Homo sapiens: one gene and its partners. The protein of the gene in region 1 purifies or fractionates together with the protein of each later gene. This does not show direct contact. Each region holds a gene or a part of one and is shown on either strand. Other genes may lie near its edges.

Evidence for each region. Proteins that work in one complex are often made in the same cells at the same time.
Region 2: the proteins of ALG8 (region 1) and TIGAR purify together in Homo sapiens (affinity purification with mass spectrometry; one large-scale study listed by BioGRID and IntAct). This does not show direct contact.
Region 3: the proteins of ALG8 (region 1) and ALDH1A1 purify together in Homo sapiens (affinity purification with mass spectrometry; one large-scale study listed by BioGRID and IntAct). This does not show direct contact.
Region 4: the proteins of ALG8 (region 1) and GPR107 purify together in Homo sapiens (co-immunoprecipitation; one large-scale study listed by IntAct). This does not show direct contact.

Annotation. Positions count from the first base shown.
Region 1 is NC_000011.10:78,129,453-78,134,053, reverse strand, and holds part of ALG8 (dolichyl pyrophosphate Glc1Man9GlcNAc2 alpha-1,3-glucosyltransferase), read left to right. Parts: intron 1-4,601.
Region 2 is NC_000012.12:4,333,960-4,338,560, reverse strand, and holds part of TIGAR (fructose-2,6-bisphosphatase TIGAR), read right to left. Parts: intron 1,523-4,601; coding exon 1,401-1,522; intron 1-1,400.
Region 3 is NC_000009.12:72,900,706-72,905,306, reverse strand, and holds part of ALDH1A1 (aldehyde dehydrogenase 1A1), read left to right. Parts: intron 1-4,026; coding exon 4,027-4,099; 3' UTR 4,100-4,601. UniProt on the Homo sapiens protein: Cytosolic dehydrogenase that catalyzes the irreversible oxidation of a wide range of aldehydes to their corresponding carboxylic acid.
Region 4 is NC_000009.12:130,051,690-130,057,053, reverse strand, and holds the start of GPR107 (protein GPR107 isoform 3 precursor), read right to left. Parts: upstream 3,149-5,364; 5' UTR 3,122-3,148; coding exon 2,981-3,121; intron 1-2,980. UniProt on the Homo sapiens protein: Has been proposed to act as a receptor for neuronostatin, a peptide derived from the somatostatin/SST precursor.

The DNA of each region.
Region 1 (4,601 bases):
AGCAAAAAGATTAGGACTTGCCGAAGGTGCAGATGATCATTAGCTTTGTTTTAGCGATAAAGTATTTTAAAATGAAGGTGTACGCTGTCTTTTTAGACATAGTAGTATTGCACGTTTTATAGTATAGTGTAAACATAACTTTTTTTTTTTTTTGAGACGGAGTCTCGCTCTGTCGCCCAGGCTGGAGGGCAGTGGCGCTATCTCGGCTCACTGCAAGCTCACCTTCCGGGTTCACACCATTCTTCTGCCTCAGCCTACCGAGTAGCTGACCCTACAGGCGCCCCTCACCAAGCCCGGCTAATTTTTTTTGTATTTTTAGTAGAGATGGGGTTTCACCATGTTAGCCAGGGTGGTCTCGATCTCCTGACCTCGTGATCCGCCCGCCTCGGCCTCCAAAGTGCTGGGATTACAGGCGTGAGCCACCGCGGCCGGCCAGTGTAAACATAACTTTTACATGCTCTGGGAAATCAAAAAATTCATGTGACTCACTTTATTGCGATATTCACTTCATTATGGTGGTCTAAACCCACAATATCTCTAAGGTATGCCTGCACTAAAATCGAATGATACAGGAAGCTTAGCATGGTCCACGCACAAGGATAGCATGCAAATTTATGAAACACTTCATATATTTAAAAACGAATGTTTTTAATTGTAGTTAATGCTCTGTTTCTCAAACCAGAAACCCCTGGGATATGAGAGGGAAGTTACAGGATAAATGCAGATATATTCAACAAAACATTTACTAATTGCTTTATTATGTACCAGGTACTGTTGCTAGGCTAGAAGGGAGGAAAAAATAGATATGATCCCTAGCCCTGTGAAGTGTGTAGTTCAGTAAGTATAACAGTACAAGAAACAAATCAATGCAAATATATAGTTACATAACTACAATTTGGATTAAGTATTAGGAAGAAGAGGCTGGGTGTGGTGGCTCACGCCTGTAATCCCAGCACTTTGGGAGGCCGAGGCGGGCGGATCACGAGGTCAGGAGATCGAGACCATCCTGGTTAACACGATGAAACCCCGTCTCTACTGAAAATACAAAAATTAGCCGGGTGTGGTGGTGGGCGCGTGTAGTCCCAGCTACTGGGGAGGCTGAGGCAGGAGAATGGCATGAACCCGGAAGGCGGAGCTTGCAGTGAGCCGAGATAGCGCCACTGCACTCCAACCTGGTCGACAGAGTGAGACTCCATCTAAAAAAAAAAAAAAAAAAAAAATGGAAGAAGAAGAACAGGATCCTATCAGGCGACCAAGAAGGAAGATGTACTTTCAGTTAGGTGTCAGAGAATGTCTCTGAGGAACTGACATCATTGGAGGCCTAAAGTGTGAATGAGAGGGCCATCCATGCAGAGTATGTGGTGTGTGCAAGTGTGTAGAACTTATCTGAAAGAGCACACTGTATAAATATAGGCCCTGTGGTGTGAAAGTATTGACCTATTTGGGCAGCTATGATAAGGCCAGTGTAGCTGGCATGGAATAAGCAACAGAGACAGAAACATGCACAGTGAAATTGGAAAGATAGGCACCAAATCATGCCGGAGCTTATAAAGCCAGGATGAAAAATTTAGATTTTGATTTTATAAGCTCAGTGGAAATGATCTGCATTTATAAAATATTTTTTGGCTCCCATATAAATGATTGGAGGAGGCAGAAGGAGAGTCAGGAAGGCTAGGTGCCCTTTGAGAAAGTCTACATGAGAGAAGATGCTGACTTGAATTGGAGTGGTGGCATTAGAGATAGAAATGGACAAATTAAAGATTTATTTTGCCTTGAGGTCAGGAAGGATTTGCAGAGAAAATAACAACTAACTTTGGAAGTATTTGGTGGTTTAAGAGCCGTAGCTAGGGAGTCAGACTGCCCTGGTTAGAATCTGGCTCTGCTGCATACTGGCTACATGACAGGGCAAGCTGCTTCTCTACGCCACTGGTGAAATGGTAAGAGTTAAAGAACCTACCTCACACAGAGTGTTGCAGGCAGAGGGAAAAGGTGAATGTAGAGTAAGACAAAGACAGGTGGGAGGATGGTGAGAAATGGGCTGAAAAGGTGAGTAAGCGAGATCCAAAAATATCTTTTAGACTATGTTGAGTACTTTAGATTTTATCCAGAGGGCAGAGGCCAGTTAAAAGGGAAATATAACATTCGTGATTTAGAAATACTACTTTGGCTGCAATGTGAAAGCTAGATTAATGAAGGGCCTGAGTGAAGATGGGGAGTTCAATTTAAGAAGCTATCATAGGACAAGTAAGAGATGGTAGGTTTTTGTTTGTTTTAATTTTTAGAGACAGGGCTGGGTGCAGTGGCTCACACCTGTAATCCCAGCACTTTGGAAGGCCAAGGCAGGCAGATTGCTTGAGCTTGGGAGTTTGGGACCAGCCTGGGCAACATAATGAAACCCCGTCTCTACAAAAAATACAAAGAATTAGCTGGAGATGGTGGTCAAAAATTTTAGAGACAGAGTCTAACTCTGTTGCTCAGGCTAGATTACAGTGGCACAGTCATAGCTCACTGCAGCCTCAAATTCCTGGGCTCAAGCCGTCCTCTGGCCTCAGCCTCCTGAGTAGCTGGGACTACAGGTGCACACCACCACACCAGCTAATTTTTAAGTTTTTTGTAGAGATGGGAGTCTCATTATGTTGCCCAGGCTGGTCTTGAACTTCCAACCTCAAGCTATCCTCCCACCATGGCCTCCCAAAGTACTGGGATTATAGGCATGAACCATTGTGCTCGGCTGATTGTAGATTTTGTTAATGCAATTTAAAAAAGTAGTTACTATTTATCATTATGTCTCTAGTCTTAGTTTTGCTTTTTTTTTCAAGTGTCATTTCAGCAATTAAGATTACTTTTACTGATGGGTGCAGTGGCTCACGCCTGTAATCCCAGCACTCCAACAAAAGTGAAGTCTCCAACAGTTTTGAATAGGAAACAACAAAATAAAGCACCCAAAAAAGAGACTGGAAAAAGTCTATATAGTACAACTATATAGGAAAAGAAAGTGTCCCCAAACTCACTCAGATTTTGTAAATGCTGTCTCCAAAGAGAGTAAAAAAGACATGTCTATAAAACAAGAACAGATGCTATGAAACAGGAATTATCAGAGAAACAGTGGTTAATAGAAAATGTTATTGCCAAAATTAAGGACAAATTGAGTAAATCTTTCAAAAATATAAGAGAAAAGATAAAAATTATAAGTTCAATCTAGGGTGTCTAGCATCCATCTAAAAAAATTTCAGAAAAAAAACACAGGGGAGGAGATTAACAAATAATAAATTTCCCAGAGCTGAAGGCACTACATACTCAGCATAATTAATGAAAAAAGACCCTCATGAAGACATTAATCACTAGACATTTCAGACTGCTATGGATAAAAAGGAGAAACAGGAAACTTCCAGAGATGAAGGGAAAACCATAAAGTAAAGAGACTTACCAACATCAACATTTTATACTAAAAACCAATGGAATAAGCTTCCAAAGTTCAGTGGAAGTAAATTTCAACCTAGAATTCCATACAAAATCCAGTATAAAATACCAGAAGTGCAAATCATAAATGTACAGCTCACTGAATTTTTGCAAAGTGAATACATCTGTAAAAAGCATATAGATCAATAAGCAGAATATTATCCCTCGGGCATCTTTCCAGCCACTCCCCACAACCCCACCCCACTAAAGGTATTGATATTCTCACCTTTTTTTTTTTTTTTTTTTGAGACCGGGTCTTGCTCTGTCTCCCATGCTGGAGTGCAGTGGTGCAAACTTGGCTCACTGTAGCCTCAGCCTCTTGGGCTCAGGCAGTCCTCCCACCTCAACCTCTTGAGTAGCTGGGACTACAGGGGCGTGCCGCCATGCCTGGCTAATTTTTAAATTTTTTGAGAGATGGGGTCTCATTGTTACCCAGGCTGGTCTTGAACTCCTGAGCTCAAGTGATCCACCCGCCTTGGCCTCCCGAAGTGTTGGGATTACAGGCGTGAGCCATCATGCCTGGCCTCTGATGTTCTTTTAACCGCATAGGTTAAATTTTGCCTGTTTTTGAATTTTTGTTTGGGTTTTTTTTGTTTGTTTTTGAATTTTATACAAATGTAATCATACAATCTATTCTCTTGGGTCTGGCTTTCACTCAACATTAAGTTTGTGCGTTGTTGTGTAATTACTGTTTTTTCATTCTTATCACTAGATAGCATGGTTCTCAAACTTTTTAGTCAGAATCACTTCTTAAAAATAATTGAGGGTCACAAAGAGCTATATGTTTATGTGGGCTGTATAATAGATAATTACCATTTTAGAAATTAAAACAAATTGTTCAAGCACAAGAATATACAAGCACAAATTTCACTGGCCTTCAGAGTGATGACATCACATTATGTAGCCTCTAGAACATCACTGTATACTTGTGAGAGAATGAGTGAAAGTAGAACAAATTACATCTGAATATTATTATGAAAATAGTACATATTTCAAACTCCTTGAAAGGGTCTCCCTGTGAGTCCCTGAATCACACTTTGAGAACTGCTGCTCTACAGTATTCCATTGTGTGAAAACACCACAATTTATTTAGCTATTCTGCTGTTTGTGGACATTTATCTCCACTTTTTACCTGTTGCAAA
Region 2 (4,601 bases), on another chromosome or scaffold:
AGAAATTCTTGTACATATTTCTAGAGTTCTTTGTCTATCCACGTCTTTCTTCCATTACTCTGCCCCACAAATTTAAGTTATGTAAAAATTAACCTCCCCAAATTCCAAGTTTTGTCTCCTTAACTCACGGAGACCTCTAAGCACTACTTGGCTTCCCCTACCAGAGTCTGGAAATTGCTTCAGCCAGAAAACCAGGACACTCCCTAGGGCTCACCTTCTTTGTTCTACTTCATTCAGGCATCATAGGCCCACAGTGCCCAAAGTCTAATATCTGAAAACAGTGGTTTCACATATTTTGCCACATTTTCTAATTGTTTATAGGGGAGATGAAATTCCAACAATACCTCACTCACAGTTGGTCACAAAACTCTCCTTCCATGGAGTTTTTAGAAGTAGACTGGGTTCGTTTTTAATTTTACTTTTTTTTTATTTTCGAGACAAGAGTCTTGCTCTGTAGCCCAACCATGCAACGGCACGATCTTGGCTCACTGCAACCTCTGCCTCCTGTGTTCAAGCGATTCTCCTGCCTCAGCCTCCCAAGTAGCTGGGATTAAGGTGCACGCCACCACACCTGGCTAATTTTTGTATTTGTAGTGGAGATAGGGTTTCACCATGTTGGCCAGGCTGGTCTTGAACTCCTGACCTCAAGTGATCCACCTGCCTCGGCCTCCCAAAGTGCAGGGATCACAGGCATGAGCCACCATGCCCAACTGGTTTTTCATTTTTATAGTAATCTGTTCCCTGAAGATATTTCTAACAAGTCTTTTATTTCTTTACAGTGACATAGTGGTTTCTTACTCTATCTGGTAATCCTAATACCTGATGTCACAGTGGATTAATTTCTCCTGTCATTTTCCCTGCTCTCTCTCATAATAGCTTATTTATATTCTTGCTGGACTTTTTTTTCTAGGCTACTCTAATTTAAAAATTATTTTTTTTAAAAAGTACAAAATAAAATTAAAATAAATAAGTTCTGTTGAGGAAGGTCATGTCTGTTTGGGATTTAATTCCCTACAGACTCTGGTAGCAGATTTTTCAAGATTATACAATTGTTGAGACTTTTGGCACATCAGCCTAGACCTTGACTCTAAACTCACCTGTTGCTGGGCGTGGTGGCTCACGCCTGTAATCCCAGCACTTTGGGAGGCTGAGGCAAGTGGATCACCTGAGGTTAGGGGTTTGAGACCAGCAACATGGCAAAACCCCATCTCTACTAAAAATACAAAAATTAGCTAGGTGTGGTGGCACACACCTGTAATCCCAGCTATTGGGAGGCTGAGGCATCAGAATCACTTGAACCCGGGAGATGGAGGTTGCAGTGAACAGAGACTGCACCACTGCACTCCAGCCTGGGCATAGAGTGACGCTCTGTCTCAAAATAAATAAATAAATAAATGTACCTGCTTTGTCCTCATGAGATCACTGGAGAAAGCATGAGTAAACTTCACATTATTCAGAAATATACCAGCAGCTGCTGCTTGTTTAAATCCAGTTTCTGAAAGAGGTTCATCTACTCCTTGTCCTGTGATATATTAAGAAGAGGAACAATAACATTCAAAACTACATATCAGAGATGTATAAATCACATGTAGAAAATATAAGCTGCATTTATCTAAATTTTAATGAAAGATTTTTTAAGTACTCTTCCACGTAACTTTTCAGGGAGTTATTAGCAAGTAAAAATAAGTTTTAAGTCTTTAAAGGCTCAGGTATTCAATTATTTTCCAAAAGAATGCTTGCCTAATGGGAATTAGGTGATGATGAGATAGAAATGTCTTAGCTTTTCCCTCTTTTATGTTTGCCCCTCTCTTCATTAATTGGCTCTGATCTTACAGGTACTGTGTTGGGGCGGTAGGACCATCATCTAAAAGTTTTTTCCTTCTTTATTCCCATCATCCAAATGCTCAGTATTATAATGGTATTACTTTTCCTCTTTCCTTCCTCCCTCCATTTCTTTGTCTTTTTCATTTTAAAAATGCTTTGAAACCTCTATTTCCAGGATAACGGTTGGCTGGACACTCTGAAGGGACCTCCTACTAAAGATCTAAATGGTGTATGTGTGTGAGTGTGTGTGTGTGTGTGTGTGTGTGTGTGTGTGTGTGTGTGTGTGTGTGCTGCATTGCTGGGCCCACAGAACATACAAAAAATCTCCAAGGGACAAAGTAAAGCAACCCCAAAGCCCTGAGCTGAACTGTGAATACCGACATGAAAAAAATGAAGGTGGTGGACTATGAGGACACGCTGGTGGGGCTGGGAGAGGAGGCCTGCTGGAGGGGACGGCAAGCGGGAGGACTAAACACAACATTCTTGGGAGCGAGGGCTCCTGTAAGGAGACTTAATGCAGCCTCAGGCCTGTGGTAAAATAAAATGCAAATCCTTTTCAGAGCAAAGCATTCTCAAAAGAGGCTAACAGGTTTTCCACTAATTTAGAACAAATAATTGTTTAGCCAAAGATTCAACACACAAGAAAATAATCTACCATAAACCAAAGCCACCCATCAAGACTTCAGACATTGAAATCAGCAAATAGGGAATTTACAATAACTATGAATAAAACATAAAGACAGAGTCACAAAAATAAGCAAGTAACAGTAAGCATCAAAAATAAGTAGACAATTTTCTAAAATAACCAAATAGATCTTTTAATAATAAAAATCAGGATTGCTGGGGGCTGGAGGGCCCCTCAATGGATAAACAGAGATTCAGATGAAAGGAGGTTTAATGAACTCAAAGACAGAGCAGAAGATATTACCCAGTACACGGCACAGATACAAGGAGATAGAGCATAGCTCAGATATATTAGAGTTCTAAAGGAAAGAATGAGAACTCCTAACGATGCCTTGTCTTAGTTGCTGTAACAAAGTACTACAGACTGGGTGACTTGTTAACAACAGATATTTATTTCTCACAGTTCTGGAGGCTGGAAGTTTGAGATGAGGGTACCATCATGGTTGGGTTCTGGTGAGGGCCTCTCCACATTACACGCTACTGACTTCTCCTTCAGTGCTCCCATGGCACAAAGAGGAAAGAGCTCTCTGGTGTCTCTTGAATAAATTCCATTCATGAGGGCTGCACCCTTGTGACCTAATAACCACCCAAAGACCCCACCTCCTAATGTCATCATATTGGGAGTTATGATTTCAACATGTAACTTTTGGGAAGAAAAACATTCAGTCTATAACATGCATCTAATTGGAACTCTAAAGGAATAAAAAAAAAAAAATGGCCGGGCATGGTGGCTCACGCCTGCAATCCCAGCACTTTGGGAGGCTGAAGGGGGTGGATCACTCGAGGTCAGGAGTTCAAAGTCAGACTGGCCAACATGGCGAAATCCTGTCTCTACTAAAAATACAAAATTAGCTGGGCATGGTGGAGCACGCCTGTAATCCCAGCTACTTGGAAGGCTGAGGCAGGAGAATCACTTGAGCCCAGGAGGCGGAGGTTGCAGTGAGTCAAGATCACACCACTGCACTCCAGCCTGGGCAACAAGAGTGAAACTCCGTCTCAAAAAAATAAAAGAACAGAAAAAATGAAGGAGAGGAATATGAAAAGAAAATAGCTAAGAATTTCACAGAATAAGAAAACACATGTACATCAAGCAGGATACATTAAAAAAAAAATTCCTCCTAGATATATTATGAGAAACTAAAGAATATCAAAATTGAAGAGTTTAAAGGAAGTTACAGAGAAAGACATATTTCCTACCATGGAACACCATTTAGCTGATAGAAATCTCTTAACAGGAAAAATGGAACCAAAACTGCAGAATGCTATCTTCCAAGTGCTGAGAGAATCATCAGTTACAAGTGTGTACCGACTGAAGCCACTATGTTTACCACCAGCTGCTCTACACACACTAGAGGACTTTTCAAAGAACGTACTTCAGGAATGGTCTGAGACGAAAACAAATGAGGAGCAGAGAAACTTGCAAATATATTCATAAATTTAAATGCCATCTAAACAAATGAAGATAATAATGTCTACCTCAAGCAATTAAAAAAAGACAGGACTAAGCGACTAGACAAGTTCTTTGTATTTTTTGGAAGAGGGGATATTAATATTATACTTTATTAGGTATTGTCAGAGTAAATGTGTCCCCCCAAAATTCAAATGTTGACATCCTAACCCTCAATGTGATCGTATTAGGAGGCAGGCCTTTGGGAGGTGATTAGATCCTAGGGTGGAGCCCTCATGAACAGGATTAGTGTCCTTATAAGTGTTCTCAATCTATCTCTCTGCCATGTGAGGATATTAACCAGAAGACAGCAGTCCGCAAACCAGGAATCAGGTCCTCCACAGACACTGGATCTGCTGGCACCCTGATCTTGGAATTCACAGTCTCTAGAACTGTGTATTGTTTAAGCCACTGGGTCCATGATACTCTGTTACAGCAGCCTTGGCTAAGACAGGTATGAGGGTAAGAATTTTAAGATAACCTTGAAAAGAATGGAAATGGTACATCATTTGAAAGGTAGTGGGGAAAGTAAGAAAGTGTGGAACAGGAAAAAAACCAAGAACTTAAGAAGTAAAAGCAGGTAAGATTAAAAAAAGAAAGACTATAAAAAGAAGGGGAAAAAAAAAACAAAGAAAAAAAATCGAAA
Region 3 (4,601 bases), on another chromosome or scaffold:
TTTTAAGTATGCACATATATATGTAAATACAGAAAGTAGTGGCAATATGCTTAGTTGATTTTGTTTAGGCAAGTTTAGTCATTTTATTTCTTAAAACTTTTTTACATGTATTAATGTAAACATTTATGAAGAAAAAAGAAATAGAAACCTTATAGTATCAAACACAGATCGTAAACTTGCTCATTTTGTAATTAGGAAGTGAAAATGTGCCTTTCTCAATCTCTAAATGTATTAAATGGTTGAGTACCGTACTCTAACAAATCAGCAAAATTACAAGGAAACAAATATCTCTGAAGAGTCAGTGAAATGGGAGAATTATAAAATGACCAGTCTACTTTCTCAATATGCTTTCATTTATTAAGCACTTGCTATGTGTAAGGTCCTAGGAACCCCAGAGACATGACACCATGTTCCATGCTCTACATAGCTGTGGTGGCAGGACATGCAAAATAACCTACATACACTATGAAATAAGTAGTAATACACTGGGATTCCATATCCTATGGAGGTAGAGAAGCAATTAAAGTACCGAGCAAAGTATTGAAGAAAACCTAGACACTACCAGAGTATAAGAGTCAGGATGGCATCTCTCTAACCATCACTATTTTCATCTGTCAGACAAGGCCAAGGATTGTGAGTGTGGATAAGAGTGGAAGAAGAAAATAGATCTTTTAACCTCTATTCCATGCTTAAGATTCTATAGTTCTGACCCCACTGGAAATCCAGTGGTTGAAAACTTAATGGCAGTTTATAGAGAAGAAAACTTCTCCTAACAGAAGAGATGAAACTTCCTCTAGGGCAGAAAGCAAGTGTAGGATATCAGTTAGTAGAGAAGAGGGCTTTCTTGCATGGAACATTACATGTGGTATGTTGAGGGGCTAGTGAATTTTGTTGATTGGTGTGGATTTATGGGGATGAAAAATATGATTTCAGAGTAACATATGATACAGATTAAGAAGTCCTGCATTTAAGAAATTTGACTTAGATTTTATTAGTGGAGTAGTGAAAAGCCATGGATATATTTAGGATGTTGCTGAAGTAGAACAAAAAGTTAGCCCATCAAAAATGCATGGCGTAGCTGAGAAAACATTACTGGAGTCTGACCAGCTGAATTTGATTCCTAATTCTGCCACTTGCTAGCCATGCACCCCAGTTCAAGCTACCTAACTTCTGAGCCTCTACTTTCTCATATTTGGTGGAGATGTTCACATTCCTCTTAAGATGGAATGAGAGTTCTTGTGGGAGTTAAATGACATACTGAATATTAAATCCCTAGCCACATAACTGTCACAAAGTGTAAATTCAACAAATGGGTTTCTTCCTTCCCTAGTTTCTTCTCTTTCTATTACTGGAGAATCTCTTGGCAAAACTAATTACTTTGTACAAAAAGTAAGAACAAAGGTTAGATTACTCTGAAGGGCAGTTGGTTCGTTTCTGGCCTGGTTATCTAACAACACATTTCACTGAGAACATTAAAGATAAAATAATCAAAAGGAATGCAAGACTAAAGTAGACCAAACATGTCAATTTCGTTGAACATAATTTGGTCAGACTTTAAGGTGAAGGCATAAAGAAATCAAATAAGAGAAGGACTGAAAACAGGAATCAACCATCAGTAATTTCCTAAAAATCTAGAACATGAGTATAGATAATTTCTTTCAAATACAAAGGAAAAAGTTGTGGGTTTTTTTTTTTTTACTTCAAAAATTCAACTAGAGAATGCTACAGTTAAAGTGTACCTGAAACCAAATTTGGTGAATTTAATAACCAAGTCATTTGCTGCAAGATGTTCCAAGAGTTACAAGTTATTACTCAGGCGATAACCTCAAATGACTCCCAAGAGTTAAATTATAAATTTTCCTCAACAATAGAGAGAATTGATCAGTTGAGAACAGAGTCCTCAAAGAGCGAAAAATGGTGTTATGCAGACCCCAGTGTGTTTGAAGGTGATACAGAGTATGCAAATCTTGATTTTGCATCTCTGATCATAGTGTTGGCTCTGGGATTAGTTAAAAGACAGAAATTCCTCCCTTTGTGTAACTGTACTGTTTCACTTAGGTTAACGTAGGTCCTTTAAGACTTTGCTAGTATGCCATTTTAAACTTGATTGGCTCTTAGCCCCTCCCACCATATTTTTTTCCTCCTGTCCCATAGAAAAGGGAGCAAGGAAGTGTAAACTAATGGTCGTATAGTGAGAACACAAATGAATTTTTTTTCTTGATATTTACCAAGTGTGTTCAGCAAACAGTTCTTCTGTGCCTACTTAATTAGTGCCAGTCTTAATCCTGGGTACAGAGAGGAAATCAGATGTAATGTGGTACTAGTGCCTTTTTTTTTTTTACAGTGTGGACCCTGGACAAGAAGCATAGGTTGATATCACTTGCAAGTTTATTACCAATGCCAACTCAGGCTTCACTCGAGACCTGCTAATTCAGAATCAGTATTTGAATAAGGTCCCAGGTGATTTGTACATTGAAGATTTTAGAAGTATACAAACAGTAACTCACAGACATAGTAAGATGAAGAGAAATCCAAACAGATGTTTGGGGCTATGTCGTAGATATAGTATAGGCATAGGAATCCTAAGGAGCAGGACATATTTCAGCCTGAATATGACAAAAATCCCACTTATTACTCTCCTGAGAGCTTCAAGTGCCTATATGACCCAAAATACAATGGAAAGCCTATTGGCGAAAGTCATGGGTTGATTGATCTAACCCTGAGATAAAATACTTATTAAAATATTATCTTTTAATGGGTTTCAGACAACTGAGGCTAAGCCCTTTAATTACTTTAAGGACCATGCTCACTGAAGCTTTTAAAAGGTATTTTCAAAAGCTTAATTGCCCAAGAAAATAATCAGTGTAAGAGTATTAGGTTACCCAGCAGAAAATGATGTCTTCTACATACCTGTCTACATCACAAGAAGGGAGGGGTAAAAAAGGATCAAGATCTTATTCTTCTGTAAGCCTACATGTGCATGAGTGTTATGATTTTGAGACTACTCTTATATACATGTAATTTGATCCTCTTATCAAAACAATATAGAGAATAACTGAGCCCAATCTTTTTAGTCATCTCTTCAACAAGGGGTAAATCAGTCAGTTTCTAAAACTGGTGGGAGGTCTCCATAAACCTGATAACAAGATCCCAAAATCCAAACTGATTGACTGAGTTAATTCCTGATCATTTGGGTTGAACTTAAGAGTTATACAAGAAAATGGTAGGGGACGAGGAGGTTGTATAAAGGGGAAAAAACAACAACTGCAAAAAGCCCAAGAGCCTGAATTTAGACCAATCTATCATCTTCCTCCTCTTAAAAAGAAAACAATTTAAAAGTTTTAAATAAAAAATAAAGGTCATGTTTTTGTTTTGCCAAGAATCAAAAGATTTTGCTGAAACTACTGCTGCAAAATATTTTGTTTCAAGCCATCTTAGGGCACCTCAGACTAAAAATGAAACCATGATCAATTTCTATCCCCTTACCACTTCTATGACAATCACACATGGTAAATACAAGCTCTGCTCTAGTACTACAATAAAACTGTAGAACTAGAGTAGACCTTGTAGTGATCATATATTACTACTTCTCCTCTTGTCCTATGTCCATCTTATTTCAATCTAAACTAGAAATGACAAAATTCTTGTTGGGTCGAATTGTCTTTTGAGTAGTTTTAGAGCTTTTTGTTTTCATTTCTCCAAGATGATCTTGTTGCATCTGCAGTTCGAGTTTTTAAAATCAAGTAGAATAATGTCAAAAGGGGACAATTTATGTGAGAAATCAACTGACAGTACATGATTATTTAAAATGAAAGTTTTAAAGAAAATTTTCCCCACAAGGGAATCTGTGTAAGACCAGAAATCTTATGATTGGCTAGCTACTATATAAAATGCTCTGTACACAAGAAATATTTTCTATTGTCCCTAGCCAGTAAAACAAGAACAAACTCGTACCAAACATGAACTACAGTATATTTATACTGCTGTGCTAAATGGTGTTTGTGGGTATGTTTTTCTTCTCTCTAGGGGAGAGTACGGTTTCCATGAATATACAGAGGTCAAAACAGTCACAGTGAAAATCTCTCAGAAGAACTCATAAAGAAAATACAAGAGTGGAGAGAAGCTCTTCAATAGCTAAGCATCTCCTTACAGTCACTAATATAGTAGATTTTAAAGACAAAATTTTTCTTTTCTTGATTTTTTTAAACATAAGCTAAATCATATTAGTATTAATACTACCCATAGAAAACTTGACATGTAGCTTCTTCTGAAAGAATTATTTGCCTTCTGAAATGTGACCCCCAAGTCCTATCCTAAATAAAAAAAGACAAATTCGGATGTATGATCTCTCTAGCTTTGTCATAGTTATGTGATTTTCCTTTGTAGCTACTTTTGCAGGATAATAATTTTATAGAAAAGGAACAGTTGCATTTAGCTTCTTTCCCTTAGTGACTCTTGAAGTACTTAACATACACGTTAACTGCAGAGTAAATTGCTCTGTTCCCAGTAGTTATAAAGTCCTTGGACTGTTTTGAAAAGTTTCCTAGGATGTCATGTCTGCTTGTCAAAAGAAATAATCCCTGTAATATTTAGCTGTAAAC
Region 4 (5,364 bases), on another chromosome or scaffold:
TGATTTCCATTTCCTTGGGCAAGAACTCAGAACAAGCTTGTCCAGGATGCATGCGGCCCAGGATGGCTTTGAATGCGGCCCAACACAAATTTGTGAACTTTCTTTTTTTTTTTTTTTTTTTTTTTTTTTGAGAAGGAGTCTCGCTCTGTCACCCAGGCTGGAATGCAATGGCGTGATCTTGGCTCACTGCAAGCTCCGACTCCCGGGTTCATGCCATTCTCCTGCCTCAGCCTCCCGAGTAGCTGAGACCACCGGCACCTGCCACCACGCCTGGCTAATTTTTTGTATTTTTAGTAGAGACGGGGTTTCACCTTGTTAGCCAGGATGGTCTCAATCTCCTGACCCTGTGATCCGCCCATCTCGGCCTCCCAAAGTGCTGGGATTACAGGCGTGAGCCACTGCGCCCAGCCAAATTTGTGAACTTTCTTAAAACATTATGAGATTTTTTTGCAATTTTTTAAAGCTTATCAGCTATGGTTACTGTTAGTCTATTTTAGGTGTGACCCAAAACAACTTTTCATCTTCCAATGTGGCCCTGGGAAGCCAAAAGATTGGACACCCCTGACTTCGGATGTTTATTTTATTTTATTTATTTATTTATTTTGAGACGGAGTCTTGCTCTGTCGCCCAGGCTGGAGTACAGGGGCTCAATCTTGGCTCACTGCAACTTCCTACTCCTGGGTCCAAGCGATTCTCCTGCCTCAGCCCCGAGTAGCTGGGATTACAGGTACCTGCCACCACGCCTGGCTAATTTTTGTATTTTTAGTAGAGATGTGATTTCACAATGTTGGCCAGGCTGGTCTCAAACTCCTGACCTCAAGTGATCCACCCACCTCAGCCTCTGAAAGTGCTGGGATTACAGGCGTGAGCCACCGTGCCCGGCCAAGTTTTGTCTACATTTCTACATGCACTTTTCTGGAGAGAGGTTCTATAGCTCTCAACAGATTCTCAAAGAGTCAAAATTCACTTGCCCCACCCCCACCCCTGTGATTGAACCATTTTAATCAGGATAATTTTTACCTACAAACAACAAAAGTTGTTACCAAAAAGTAAGGTTGTATGGATCCAGTCAGGCTTGCATTTATTTATTTATTTATTTATTTATTTGAGACAGAGTATAGTTCTTTCGCCCCGACTGGAGTGCAGTGGCACAATGATCTCTGCTCACTGCAATCTCAGCCTCCCGGGTTCAAGCAATTATCCTGTCTCAGCCTCCCAAGTAGCTGGGACTACAGGCATGTGCCACCATGCCCGTCTAATATTTGTATTTTTAGTAGAGAGGGGTTTTGCCATGTTGGCCAGGCTGGTCTCGAACTCCTGACCTCAGGTGATCCGCCCACCTCGGCCTCCCAAAGTGCTAGGATTATAGGTGTGAGCCACCGTGCCCAGTCAAGCCAGGCTTTTAATTTCATTCTGTATTCTTTAAATTCTACATTAACAAAATACAATGCTTCATAGTTTGCTAAAACAATGTGTTTTTACAAGACAAACTTTCTACAGTTCCACTTCTTTTTTTTTTTTTTTTTGAGACGGAGTCTCGCGCTGTTGCCCAGGCTGGAGTGCAGTGGCGGGATCTTGGCTCACTGCAAGCTCCGCCTCCCGGGTTCACGCCATTCTCCTGCCTCAGTCTCCCGAGTAGCTGGGACTACAAGCGCCTCCCAGGTTCACGCCATTCTCCTGCCTTAGCCTCCCGAGTAGCTGGGACTGCAGGCGCCTGCCACCACGCCTGGCTAATTTTTTTTTTATTTTTAGTAGAGATAGGGTTTCACCGTGCTAGCCAGGATGGTCTCGATCTCCTCACCTCGTGATCTGCCTGCCTCGGCCTCCCAAAGTGCTAGGATTACAGGCGTGAGCCACCGCGCCCCGCCTACAGTTCCACTTCTTAGAAGACTGTATGGTATGAAAATAATGTACAAGAGTTTGGGTCATAACAATTTACTTTTCTATGTCTCTAATTTTGTTTATATGTTTTGAGAAAGGGTCTTGCTCTGTTCCTCAGGCTGGAATGCAATGAGTAATCACGGCTCACTGCAGTCTCAACCTCCTAGGCTCAAGTGATCCTCCAGCCTCAGCCTCCCCAGAAGCTGCAGGCGTTTGCCACCACACCTGGTTAATTTTTAATTTTTTGTAGAGACAGGTTTGGGGAGGGGGTCCTTAGCACGTTGACTAGGCTGGTCTCGAACTCCTGGGCTCAAACAATCCTCCTGCATAGGCCTCCCAGTGTTGGGATTACAGGCATGAGCCACAGCACCTGGACAATTTCCCAGATATAGTAAACTGCTGAACCACCTTAGGGTGCGTTTCAGCCTTAGAGGTCTTTTCTCTGCTAGTTACAAAGCAAGATCCAGAGTATCATTCTAGGTTTATCAAAAATCTCTCTTCCCTAGACAATGGCTGGATAGAGGAAGAAAAAGCAGGCCCTTTGATTAGAGACACACCTTAATGCTGGCTTTACATTCTCAGTCACGTGTTTTAAGCAAGATTTGAAATTCCTTCTCTAGAGTCTCGCTCCAGAGAGCGCCCTAAACCGAAATGGGAAACTGAGGCTAAGGTTCCAAGTACCTTCAAACCGCCGGTACAGTACAAGGGCACAGAAGAGCGGAGACCGCGGACAAGGAAAGCCAGCATAAAAGCTGGAGGGGAGAAAGAAGAAAGGCGATCGGGCTGCCCTGAGTGAGGAATTCAGGGAAGCCAGCAGGGATTTAAGAGCAGCCTCCCGAGTCCGTGGGGGCAACGCCACAGTTCAGCCCCTTCCCCTCCCTCAGCTCGAGTCTTCCCGCCCCGTGCCGGTCAGCCCGAAGACCCCAGCGCCGCCCAGACCCGCCTTCCCCACAGACCCCGCCACCTGTCAGTGAAAGGCCGCAGCCAGGGGCAAAGAGGTGGTCCAGTGGCTCAGAGGTCCCCAATGGGCCAAAGTTGCCCTAAAACCCGGGGAGTGGCCTCGGCCTCCGCCCCCCGGCCCGGCCTTGCCAAGCTTTACCTTGAGTGCCAGGTGATGGACGCGGCCCAGGCCAGGCTCGGCCAGCAACTGCAGCAAACCCAGCATTGGGAGCAGCCGGAGGCCCGCGGCCAGCCTAGGACCGCGGGAGGCGGGGGAGCCGACGGGCGCCAGAGCGGCCATGTTTGTTCCAGCATCACCAGCCGCTTCCTCTCCCGCCCACGTCCGGGGTGAAAGGGCGCAGCCGCCGGAAGGGCCCGGGGAGCGGGGCTCGGCGGCTAGCTCCGCTGACCCTGTGGTCGTTTTCCTGGAGATTGCGACCTAGGAAGTCGTCGAGGAGCCTGTGCTGCCCACCTCGGGGCCCTTCGATCGGCCGCTCCTGTGCAGACTTTCAGTTAGAGATGAAGCCAACCTATTGGCGGTTGCCATAACAACGGTGGCCGAACCAGACCAGCCCGGGCCGCACCTCCGCCTCGCTGAGCTTTGGAAGCGACCTTGGGCTCCGGGGACCCCTGATCTCAGGGTCGGGGGATAAGCTGTGTCAGCCGCACGGTGTCGGGCCACTGATTGAACTGATTTCACTGAGCGTTGACTCGGAGGAAAATATCTAAAAATTCCCGGCTCGCCGTAGGGGTCCTGTGGTTTTCTAGGCGCTTCACACTCAAATACAAGCGAAATGGTTGCAATAATACGATTGATTGAGCCCTTATGAGGCAATTTGTTAGGCCTTTTGTTGTATTTAATTTTTGGAACAATTTGATGAGCTAGGAGGTACGTATTATCATTATTCCTACTTTACAGGTAAGCAAACTGAGGCTCTGAGAAATAAGTCATTTGCTCCAGGTTGAGCTGGGAATCACACGGAAGCTCTTAACTCCTGTGTTCTGTTGCCTCATGCTATTTCATCCAACCCCAAGTCTGGGTCTTAACATTTTTCTCTTAATTCTGTATGGAAACTTTCTTTGCTTCTTTCAGAAATTATAGGAACTTCTTTTTTTTGAGACGGAGTCTAGCTCTTGTCACCCAGGCTGGAGTGCAATGGCACGATCTCAGCTCACTGCAACCTCCGCCTTCTGGGTTCAAGCGATTCTCCTGCCTCAGCCTCTGGAGTAACTAGAATTACAGGCCTGCGCCACCACGCCCGGCTAATTTTTGTATTTTTAGTAGACACGGGGTTTCTCCCATGTTGGCCAGGCTGGTCTCGAACTCCTGACCTCAAGTTATCCTCCCGCCTCGGCCTCCCAAAGTGCTGGGATTACAGGCGTGAGTCACTGCGCCCAACCTGCTTTGGAGTACTTTTTATCTTTTAAAGTTAAGTGGCATCTTTGAAAATCTCTGGTTTTAAATTTGAATATAATACTGTACTAAAAACGAAATGAGGCCTGGCAGGGTGGTGATTCGCGCCTGAATCCCAGCACTTTGGAACGCCGAGGCGGGCGGATCACTTGAAAGTCAGTTGTTCGGGACCAGCCTGGGCAACATGGCAAAACCTCGTCTCTACTAAAAATACAAAAATTAGCGGGGCATCACGGCCGCGCGCCTGTAGTCCCAGCTACTGGGGAGGCTGAGGCAGGAGAAGCACTTGAACCTGGGAGGCAGAGGTTTCAGTAAGCCAAGATCATGCCACTGCACTCCAGCCTGGGTGACAGAGTGAGACTCTGTCTCAATAAAAAAAAAATCAGGTAAGAATCTTAATCCCATTTTATAATACAATAGTGATGAAACATTAAAATAGTTTTAAATAGGAGACTTTTGTCTTAGTTTCTGGACAACAGTTTTATAAGGGCTTAAAACTGGGTTCATAGCATTCCTTGCTTCTCTATACTTGGGTATTATCATGTGACCTACATAGGGTCATACCAGTGCTGTCTGTCCAGGGGTTTAAGAGGATATCTTCTTCTTTCACATATTTGAAAGCTGTATTGTGCCAGTCATTATTTTGGAATTGAGAGGAATAAGAATGAGGGAAAACTGACTACAAAGACATTGTTGAGCATTTTCTCTACAGTTACTTCTTAAATTCTAGAAAACTGCTGCCTTGACAATTACATTTAGCCATGTGATTTCATAGTTTCAAGAAAAGATTATTTGCATAATCATGATGCTGTAACTGGAAACAAACAGGCTGAGTAACAGAACAAGTTATGCCTGCTTCTCCTGGCAACATTTTCAAAGGGACATTACACTTTAAGGTATTGACTGAAAAAGCCTGCAGGGGCTGGAAAGACTGATCTCCTAAGCTTGGCTTTTAGCCTTACTCTCTTAGTCAAGTACATTTTATTTTTCTATTTTCTCTCCTTTTTTTTTTGAGACAGAGACACTGTTGCCCAGGACTGAGTGCAGTGGTGTGACATCTGTTCACTGTAGTCTCCACCTCCCAGGTTCAAGGGATTCTCATGCCTCAGCCTCCCTAGCTGGGACCACAG